Linked DNA regions of Homo sapiens: region 2 is linked to region 1. Evidence: fine-mapped expression QTL. A gene starts in region 1. The other region holds a variant in brackets. All regions are shown on one strand. Distances are from middle to middle.

Region 1 (4,270 bases):
ATAGCTTCTTACTACACCTACAGCTCAGCGAGTCCCGCCACTTGCTTTATACACTTTGATTTTTCTCTTTGCTTCTCTCTCCTATCTGACCCCCCTTTTCCTGAACACTTGCTGCCCCCTATTTCTCTTTTCTTCACTTTTGCTTTACTTCTTTTGCTGCCCCATTCCGTGGGAGACCCTATCTCTGTTTCTTCAGGTGGCCCTGTGGGTGTGAAAGAACAAACTTCTGGGCAGGCATACACCAGTGGTACACCAGCGGTACACAGGAAGACACCCCTCCCAGGAAACAATACCTCTGCCTCTGACACTTCCGGGAGCCTTGTAGCCACAGGAATCAACACATGTCTCTGCAACACTTCAAATTAACTCAGGCCTCAACAAGGCAGAGAGGGGTGTAGCCATACAGGCATGATCAGGGCCAGCTTATCACCATTCACTGGGAGACTGGCTGGAATGTGGATGTGCCGAGTGAAAAGTCAAATGTCTGCCTAATAGCAGAGCCCTCCACTCTGAAACACAAATGGCCCACTACATTCCTCACTCATAATTTTTAAAAATTTTTTAAAAAAATCTTTTACCCTAATGTCCAGTAGGCTATTGAACACTAGCTATCAATTTTTTGCCCTATGCCCTACAGTTAAAAATAAATGGCCAGGCAGGGTGGCTCACACCTGTAATCCCAGCACTTTGGGAGGCTGAGGCGGGCAGATCACAAGGTCAGGAGATCGAGACCATCCTGGCCAACATGGTGAAACCCCGTCTCTACTAAAAATACAAAAATTAGCTGGGTATGGTGGCATGCCTGTAGTTCCAGCTACTTAGGAGGCTGAGGCAGGAGAATTGCTTGAACCCGGGAGACAGGTTGCAGTGAGCTGAGATCATGCCACTGCACTCCAGCCTGGGTGACAGAACGAGACTCCATCACAAAATAAACAAATAAATAAATGTGTGTGCATAAATATGTACACACATATACATATGTATATTTTATATACACAAGTATTTGTATATCTAAAACCAGTTTCACAAAACAGTACCCTCATTACATGCATAGCTCAAATTTTTTAATTTCTTTATAATCTAGTTATCTTAATAACTTTTTAAAATGCTGGTTTTGACCTAGAGATTTTTAACCTTGTGTGTGTGTGTATATGTGTTTGTGTGTGTGTGTGTATCTGTTTGTGTGTATGTGTGTGTGTGTATGCATGTGTGCACGTGCCATTTCTACCCCATGTGATGAAGCCTATGGATCCTTTCTTGTAGTGTTTTTAAATGCATAAAGCAAAACTCTTAGGCTTACAAAGGAAATCAATGATATTGAAATACAATTCTATCCTTGGGCCTCTTGTGGGGAAAGGGCAGTGTCCACAGACCCAGGTTAAGAATCTCTGCATGGGTAAATTGATTTCCCAGCTGACTGCTGAGCCACAACCTGCAGTTTGGAAAATAAGGCTGTACAAAGCCTCAGAACATTTTGTTGTAGTTAAGTATTTCAGATGCTTATTATCCTGTCACGGTTTTAACCCTCTTTTCCCTCCCTTTCCCCATGCTCCCTCTATCCAGTCACCCACACCCCACCACATGCACATGCATGTGTACTCACTTACATGCATGCACATATATGTTGCCACATATCCACATACACATAGGCACACACATGCACAGGCACACACATGCAGATCTTAGGTCACATATCTGGAATGAGATGAGGCACTAGACCACTGGGTCCAGCCCCTCCTGTGACCCCAGTCCCACTCCCTGACTGCCTCTGTGTCACAGCTCCTCTGGCTCCTGCCTCAGAACTACTCTAGTGGCTCATTATCTCTGCAGGGCAGCGCTCACCATCACGACTTTCTTGTTTTCTTTCACAGCATTGTGAGCCAATAGGTGCATTCTGCCTCAGAATAGTGGTGGAGACTGGTGGTGGCACAGCCCAGAGCTCTTGACGTTTATTTTCTCAGGCTTCAGTGAACCTTCTGTGGCAGGTGTTTCCTTTTGATAGGCGGCAGTTCCTCCCTGGGTCACTCCAGCCTGCAGCTGAAGCCCTCACTTAGCTCACTGTGGCTGTACTGAACACACCACCTCCCAACATGGAGCAGCCTAGCCAGGGGGTGCGGGAAGGAAAGATGGTTGCTGCCACAAATGAATGACTCAGCTACCTTCTCCAATGGTTTGATATTGACGTTTCCTCCTGTCATAGCAAAAATGCCCAGGTGAACTGTTTTCTCCATCGCATGTAGAAAGATGATGGTTGTCTGAACTGGTTCCAGGTAATGGACAGTGGTAAGCGCTCCCTTCTCTTATAGTATGTTATGGATTGAAGTGTGTCTCCCCACAAAAAGATATTACTGGAGTCCTAACCCTGAATATTTCAGAATGTGACCTTATTTGGAGATAGTGTGTTTACTGAGGTAATCAAATTTAAATGAGGTCATTACAGTCTCTAATCCAATAAGACTAGTGTCTTATAACAGAAACGAACGCTTACAGAGGGAAGACAATGTAAAGAGACACATGGAGAAGATGGCTGTATTTCCATTCTCATGCTGCTATAAGGACATACCCAAGACTGGGTAATTTATAAAGGCAAGAGGTTTAATTAACTCACAGTTCAGCATGGCTGGGGAGGCCTCAGGAAACTTAGAATCACGGCAGAAGGGGAAGCAAACACGTCCTTCTTCAAGTGGTGGCAGGAAGAGAACTGAGTGAGTAAAATGAGGAAAGTCCCCTTATCAGATCTCCTGAGAACTCACTCACTTTCACGAGAACAGCGTGAAGGTAACTGCCCCCATGATTCAATTACCTCCCCCGGGTCCCTTCCATGACACGTGGAGATTATGGGAACTACAATTCAAGATGGGGTTTGGGTGAGGACACAGCCAAACCATATCAACAGCCATCTGTAAGCCAAGGAGAGAGGCCTGGAACAGATACTTCCCTCGCAGCTCCCAGAAGGAGCCAATCCTGCCGACACCTTGATTTCAGACTTCTGGCCTCCAGATTGTGAGACAAGAACAGCAACTCGGCCTGTGTTCTCTGCCCTTGAGGTTGAAACAGGGAGCAGAAGGTTTTTTTTCCCCTCTGTGTTGCAGCATGGAGTTCTGAATGACAGATGAGGGGTTGATCACCCTCCACACCCATGCTAAGCCTTATGGCTTCACGGGGTTCAGGCTTCCTGTGTTCAGTCTTCTGTGTTGCCAGAAAAATTTGCATACTCCCATGGACAAAGAAAGCAGCAGAGGAGAAAGAAGAGCTTTCATTCACTTCCTCTTTGGGGTGAGAGCAAGTCTGAATGCTCTAGAATTGATTCTATTAGAAAAACTCTCTGACCCCAAATATGAATATTTTCACCACACCCAATACTCATAATTTTAAAAATAGATCTTTTGAGTTTCATCCTGACTAGTAACCTAAAGATCACTGACTTCTGATTTATTTTTTTATCATGCTCTACAGTTAGAAATGCAAACATATAGACTAGAGAGGGCCACAGAGGTGTTTGATCCCATCACTTCATGTAGGTAGGAAGATGTTGAACCCCTGAGAGGGGTCGGAACTTGTCCAAGATCACACAGCAGGCAGAGTACATCAGGACCTCAAACCCATATCTTCTGCCCTCTCCTCCTAAGGTCTCCATCACTAACACCCTGTCACGGTCCATCCTGCTAAGGAAGTCTCTACTATAAAATCCCATACCTTGAAAATTAATTGTTTTTCCACTCACACGTTACCACCCTTCCCTCCTGCAAACATTTGGAAGTTGAAAGGTCGCACAGCCTTCATGAAATTAACCAGAAGAATTGAAAGGAAGCTGATGACAAAAGTACTTCAAAATCTGTTTTTCATGAAAACAGCTTTTTCTTTTCCCCCTCAGATCAAACTGAATTTTTCTTTTTATTTTTGCGGTATTCTTCTAATTGTGCCTTTTTAAATGTGTTTGAAATAGTTCTTTGTTTCTGTAGATTAATCACCTTTCAATGCTCTCCTTTTTTAAAAAAAACAAAATTTTAAAACTTTTAAATAAAATTTTCATTTGTTAACTCTCAGTCCTTCTCCTTTATCATAATTCACTTTTCCTATCATGTTCAGTGAATTATACAATTAATTACTTTTTCAGCTTGCAAATGGTTTGCTATTGTATATGTCATGTTTTCTTTTGGATGAGAAAACACTTATTTCACACAATAGTGCCATTGCTTTTATTATTCTTCCTGTCACTGAGAGGGGGGAAAGACCAAGAACCAAACAATAAGACTTTTATTTACAGCTA
Region 2 (4,540 bases), 6.4 kb after region 1:
GTTAATGAGAAGATTAAATCAAGAACCATATTAAAAACCCCTAATGGTGTGCCTAATTGGGAAGTTGAGGAACAATTAAAGTTTCTTTCTTCTTGCTTTCCTCTGCCATTCTCATCTGAAAGGTTAGACATCTTCTGTACAGCCTGGAAGTATAGAGCAATGCCAGTAGCAGTGGACTGGTTTTGACTCAAGACAAGGAAAGACACTTCTAATGGGTTGACTGAGGCAAGGGGTCCAAGCCCAGGCCCAGATGCCTCCTGAAGAGAAGACTCAAGCATCAGAAGAGTGGCTGGACATGACATTTAAGGTCTCTTTCTACCTGAGTTTCTGAACTAGTATTTGGAGCTTCTTTTCTTACGATTAAGCACTGGGAACAGCTTCAGAGGACCCAGAAGTACAATTAGGAAGTGTGATGACACAGGGAGCACCCAGCGCAGCAGCAATTTGTCCAGAGCATTCACAGTGATTCTTAGGAAAAGTCAGGGATGGAATCCAGTGCTAGATTTCACACGTCGAGGTACTCTGCTGGTGTTCTGATGATCCTCCTCACCAAAGGCACCTTCAGGTTTTGTGAGGCATGAGGCTTATACAATTATGGGAGCCCTCTTTAAGAAGAAGAATGCAAAATTGCAAATACAAAATTAGGCATGAAAGCGAATATTTACTTAGAATGAGAAATTATATCATGACAAATTACAGGAGTGCTGGAGAATTAGTTCCTTTTCTTCTGAGATCCCTTTAAGCAATTTACCCAAAATGCTGACATAGAAATGTTTCCTGATTGTAACCCAGCTTCCTCTCTCCACCTGGAACTCTATCACTCTTAGCAACCCAGGCTCTCACAGGGGCCGTGCATGGGAAAGGACCTGTAACTCAGGTCCTTTATTTATTAAACTTTATTCATTTTATGATAGATCTTCTCTTGTAACCAAGTATTTTTGAAATATAATTTTATTCTTTTATTTTTAATTGATACATAATAATTATATATACATATGGGGTACAAGTGATATTTCCATACCTGTATACGATGTTTAATGATCAAATAAGTGTATTTAGCATATCCATCATCTCAAACATTTATCATTTGTGTTGAGAACATTCAAATTCCTCTCTTCTAGCTGCTTTGAAAAACACAATAAATTTTTATTAACGATAGTCATCCTACTGTGCAATGGAACACTAGAGCTTATCTAACTGTAACTATTCTTATTTTTTATTTTTTTGAGATGGGGTTTCAAAAATGTTTAAGCCTGTCACCCAGCCTGGAGTACAGTGTGTGATCATGGCTCACTGCAGCCTGGACCTTCCCAGGCTCGGGTGATCCTCCCACCTCAGCCACCTGAGTAGTTGGGACTACAGGCACTTGCCACCATGCTTGGCTAATTTTTTAAATTTTTGTACAGATGGGGTTTTGCTAGGTTGCCCAGGCTGGTCTCAAACTCCTGGGCTCATGCCATCTGCCCACCTCAGCCACCTGAAGTTCTAGGATTATAGGTGTGAGCCACTATGCCCAGACCACAACTGCTATCTTGCTCTTATCTAACTTCCTCCTGCCTAACTGTAACTTTGTACCCTTTCACCAACTTCTCCCCATTCCCCACCCCACCCTTCCCAGCCTCTGGTAACCACTAGTCTACTCTACTTCCAGCAACTTCCAGTTGCTGTGGGTGGACTCGTGTCACTCACGTCCCCCTGACAAGCCCATGGCTACATCCCCTTACCTTTTACTTTTTGGATTCCACATATGAGTGAGATAATGCGGTTATTTGTCTTTCTGTGCCTGGTTTATTTCATTTAACATAATGCCCCCCCCAGGCTCATTCATGTTACTGCAAATGACAGGTTTCATTCTTTTTTATGGCTGAATAATATTCCATTGTGTATATATACCACATGTTCTTTATCCATTCATCTGTTGGTGGACACTTAAGCAGATTGCATATCTTGGCTATTGTTAATCACCCAGCTGAATAATTTTACAATCATGTTTATTACACAAGCAATGTTGTAAGAGTGTTAATGGAAAACAAAAGAATAAAAAGGTGGAGAGGGAACTCTCATAATCCCATAATTTCAACCAACCATTTGTTTCTTTTTTCCATATTTCTTTTTCAGCCCATGCTTCTACATGCACAATTTAAGTACTTGAAAACATGGCAAAGATATAATTTCCTACT[C/A]TTTTTCGCTTAACATGCCATCATTTCCCTATGGCTCTCTGCTGTCTTAATCAGTGTGATATTTCAAGGCTGTATGATAATTCACTCTCCTGCCATTGTGATAAATTCATATTACACAAACAAGAATTATAAAGATGGGATCTGAATTTTAGCCTGACTATAGACGTTCTAACCACACACACACACACACACACACACACACAAATGCAAAGGAAAGAAAGACCATAGCAACATTGTAATTCACAGAGGTGTAAATAATCTGTCAATTTAAATAGAAGAATCAGTCAAACTCATTATTAGGTGTGGACAGATAAAGAAACTATCAGCAGGTTGGATTTCCACTTTTCAACTAATTTCTTCGGTTAAGAAATTGAAACTCCAGTGAGGATGACCCTTCTCATGGGGTTATGAAGAGGAATAAATAGAGATTGTCATGTGACTGGATACTACAGTGGATGGACATTTTTTCCTCTCTAAGGAGTATTTATTTCTTAATGGAAAGTATTTCTACTGGAGCCATACCATGCAAATTCTATGGCAATAATTCAATTATGCCGATTAGAATGCAAATTATTCCATAAAACACTATGAAGACCCTCCCTCTGAGAAACTTCTGAACAAAACATTTCAATAGTGCTCAGTAGCTTTCCCTTCCTGGGTGGAAATTACAAGTCGAGTACAATATGATTCATAACTTCATGGAACAGTTGCTGTGGGTGGACTAGTGTCACTCACGTCCCCCTGACAAGCCCATGGCTACACCCCCTTACCTTTTACTTTCTCAACTTCTCAGTGGGATGCAGCAACCAAACCACCCTGTAGGGTTTTGACTTTTTAAAACTCCAGTATAAAAGACAGGCTGTAAAGACGTGGCAACAGCATCCAAAACTCCTATTCTAAATTCTCTGTGTGTCATATCAGGCAGCAAGCTCAGAGTTTGAAATGTCTCTTCTGTGGTTTGGAACTGTTTCCACAGTCTACCAAATTTATAAGCAAAGGTGATTACAGCTCATCACAACTCACTTACAGCATTATACCAAGATGGACATAAGCTATTAAAACTACAGCTAAGTCATTTTTAGGATGAAGGTGCACACTAACGGGCATGACTCACCTTATTTTGGGATTCCTAATATAACAAAGGTTGTTGCAAAGGTTCCCTCTTGGGTTTTTAAATCTGCAGCTCTCATGTTCTCCTATTAAGGACAGGACCTGAGAGCACTGGAGTAGAGGCTGCGTGCAGGGCCAGTTCTGAAAGCACAGTCTCTGTTTTAGCTGGAGGTATCTCGGATCCTATGTTGTGACGATGTCAAGGTTTAGACACTCCCTAATCCTCAACCTGTAACACCCCCTCAGACTTTATGGCTTCGATTCCTTGCAATGAAAAACAGAAATTGGGGAGCAACTACAAATAACTGATTCCACACGGTCTCCTCATGTATCGATCTTCCTTCTGCATCAGGGACTCACCTGGCGTCGCAGGGATGGTGATGATCAAAGGGCTTCTTCCCGGCAAAGACAAAAATGTGTACAATTATTTTTTTCCTTTAATTTTATAAAAGACAACGTGTATGTGAACCAAAACTAGGGAATGACATTCTGACCAGCCAATTTTCTCACTGAAGCTTTTGTAAAATGAAATTTTCTTTGCTTCCTATTTTTATGCTGTCTTCTAGTGTGGCTGGCACGGGTAACAATCATACTTGGCACTTCTGTCGTGCTTTTCATCCAAAGATTTCAAAGTGCTCCACACAGGATTTCATCCTCACGACAGGGCTGGGAGGAAGGTCAGTTCTGTTATGCCTAGTGAGCAGATAGGATGCAGAGCAGAGACATGACTCATACGTGGGCCCTGCAAACCTTCAGTGACAGAAACAGGTTAGAGCCCAAGCTTCCTAATTCCTAACTCTGTCTGCTGTTCACTTGTCTCAGCTGATATGGCCTTTTCTTCTAAGGGCTGAACATTAGGCCCAGCATGACATATTATGAACAGCTTGTTAAGTGTCTGACCCCAAGGAGAAATGAGAAGCCCAAATAAAAATGGGTTTGATTTGTTTCTGAGAACTCCTTTTCAGTCTTTAAGAACTTGTACCAATAAGCCTTAAAAGTGAGTGCAACTCTACTGGGTGAAAAATGGCTACCAGATTTCAATACTTGAAAATATCAAAGTATTGGCAAGAAAGTCAAGCAACAGGAATCTTATATTCTACAGTTGGGAATGTAATTAGTACAGCCATTCAGGAAAACAATTTAGCAATGGCTTGTAAAGTTGAACATGTACATCCACTTCAACCCAGCAATGCCACTCACACATAATATACATAATAAGAATATAATATAATATATAATTTCTCTAGAAG

Evidence for each region. PIP is the estimated chance that this variant, and not a neighbour inherited with it, causes the effect.
Region 2: its variant is the best candidate, but not a certain one, in a credible set for the expression of LINC01215 in whole blood (TOPMed, PIP 0.56).

What each region holds. Positions count from the first base shown.
Region 1 is chr3:108,123,481-108,127,750 of GRCh38, reverse strand. It overlaps LINC01215 (long intergenic non-protein coding RNA 1215), which reads right to left and starts at 2,687. Exons shown (of 2, transcript NR_110030.1): 1 at 2,609-2,687. RefSeq lists enhancers at 1,675-1,774, 2,275-2,354, 2,575-2,624, 2,905-3,044, 3,115-3,164 and 2 more.
Region 2 is chr3:108,116,925-108,121,464 of GRCh38, reverse strand. LOC105374031 (a long non-coding RNA gene) reads right to left here. Exons shown (of 8, transcript XR_007095997.1): 5 at 3,295-3,983; 6 at 1,022-1,121; 7 at 359-605. Among named protein-coding and RNA genes, the nearest start is that of LINC01215, 5.9 kb to the left of the region's middle. The variant C/A (reference allele first, on the strand shown) is at 2,181.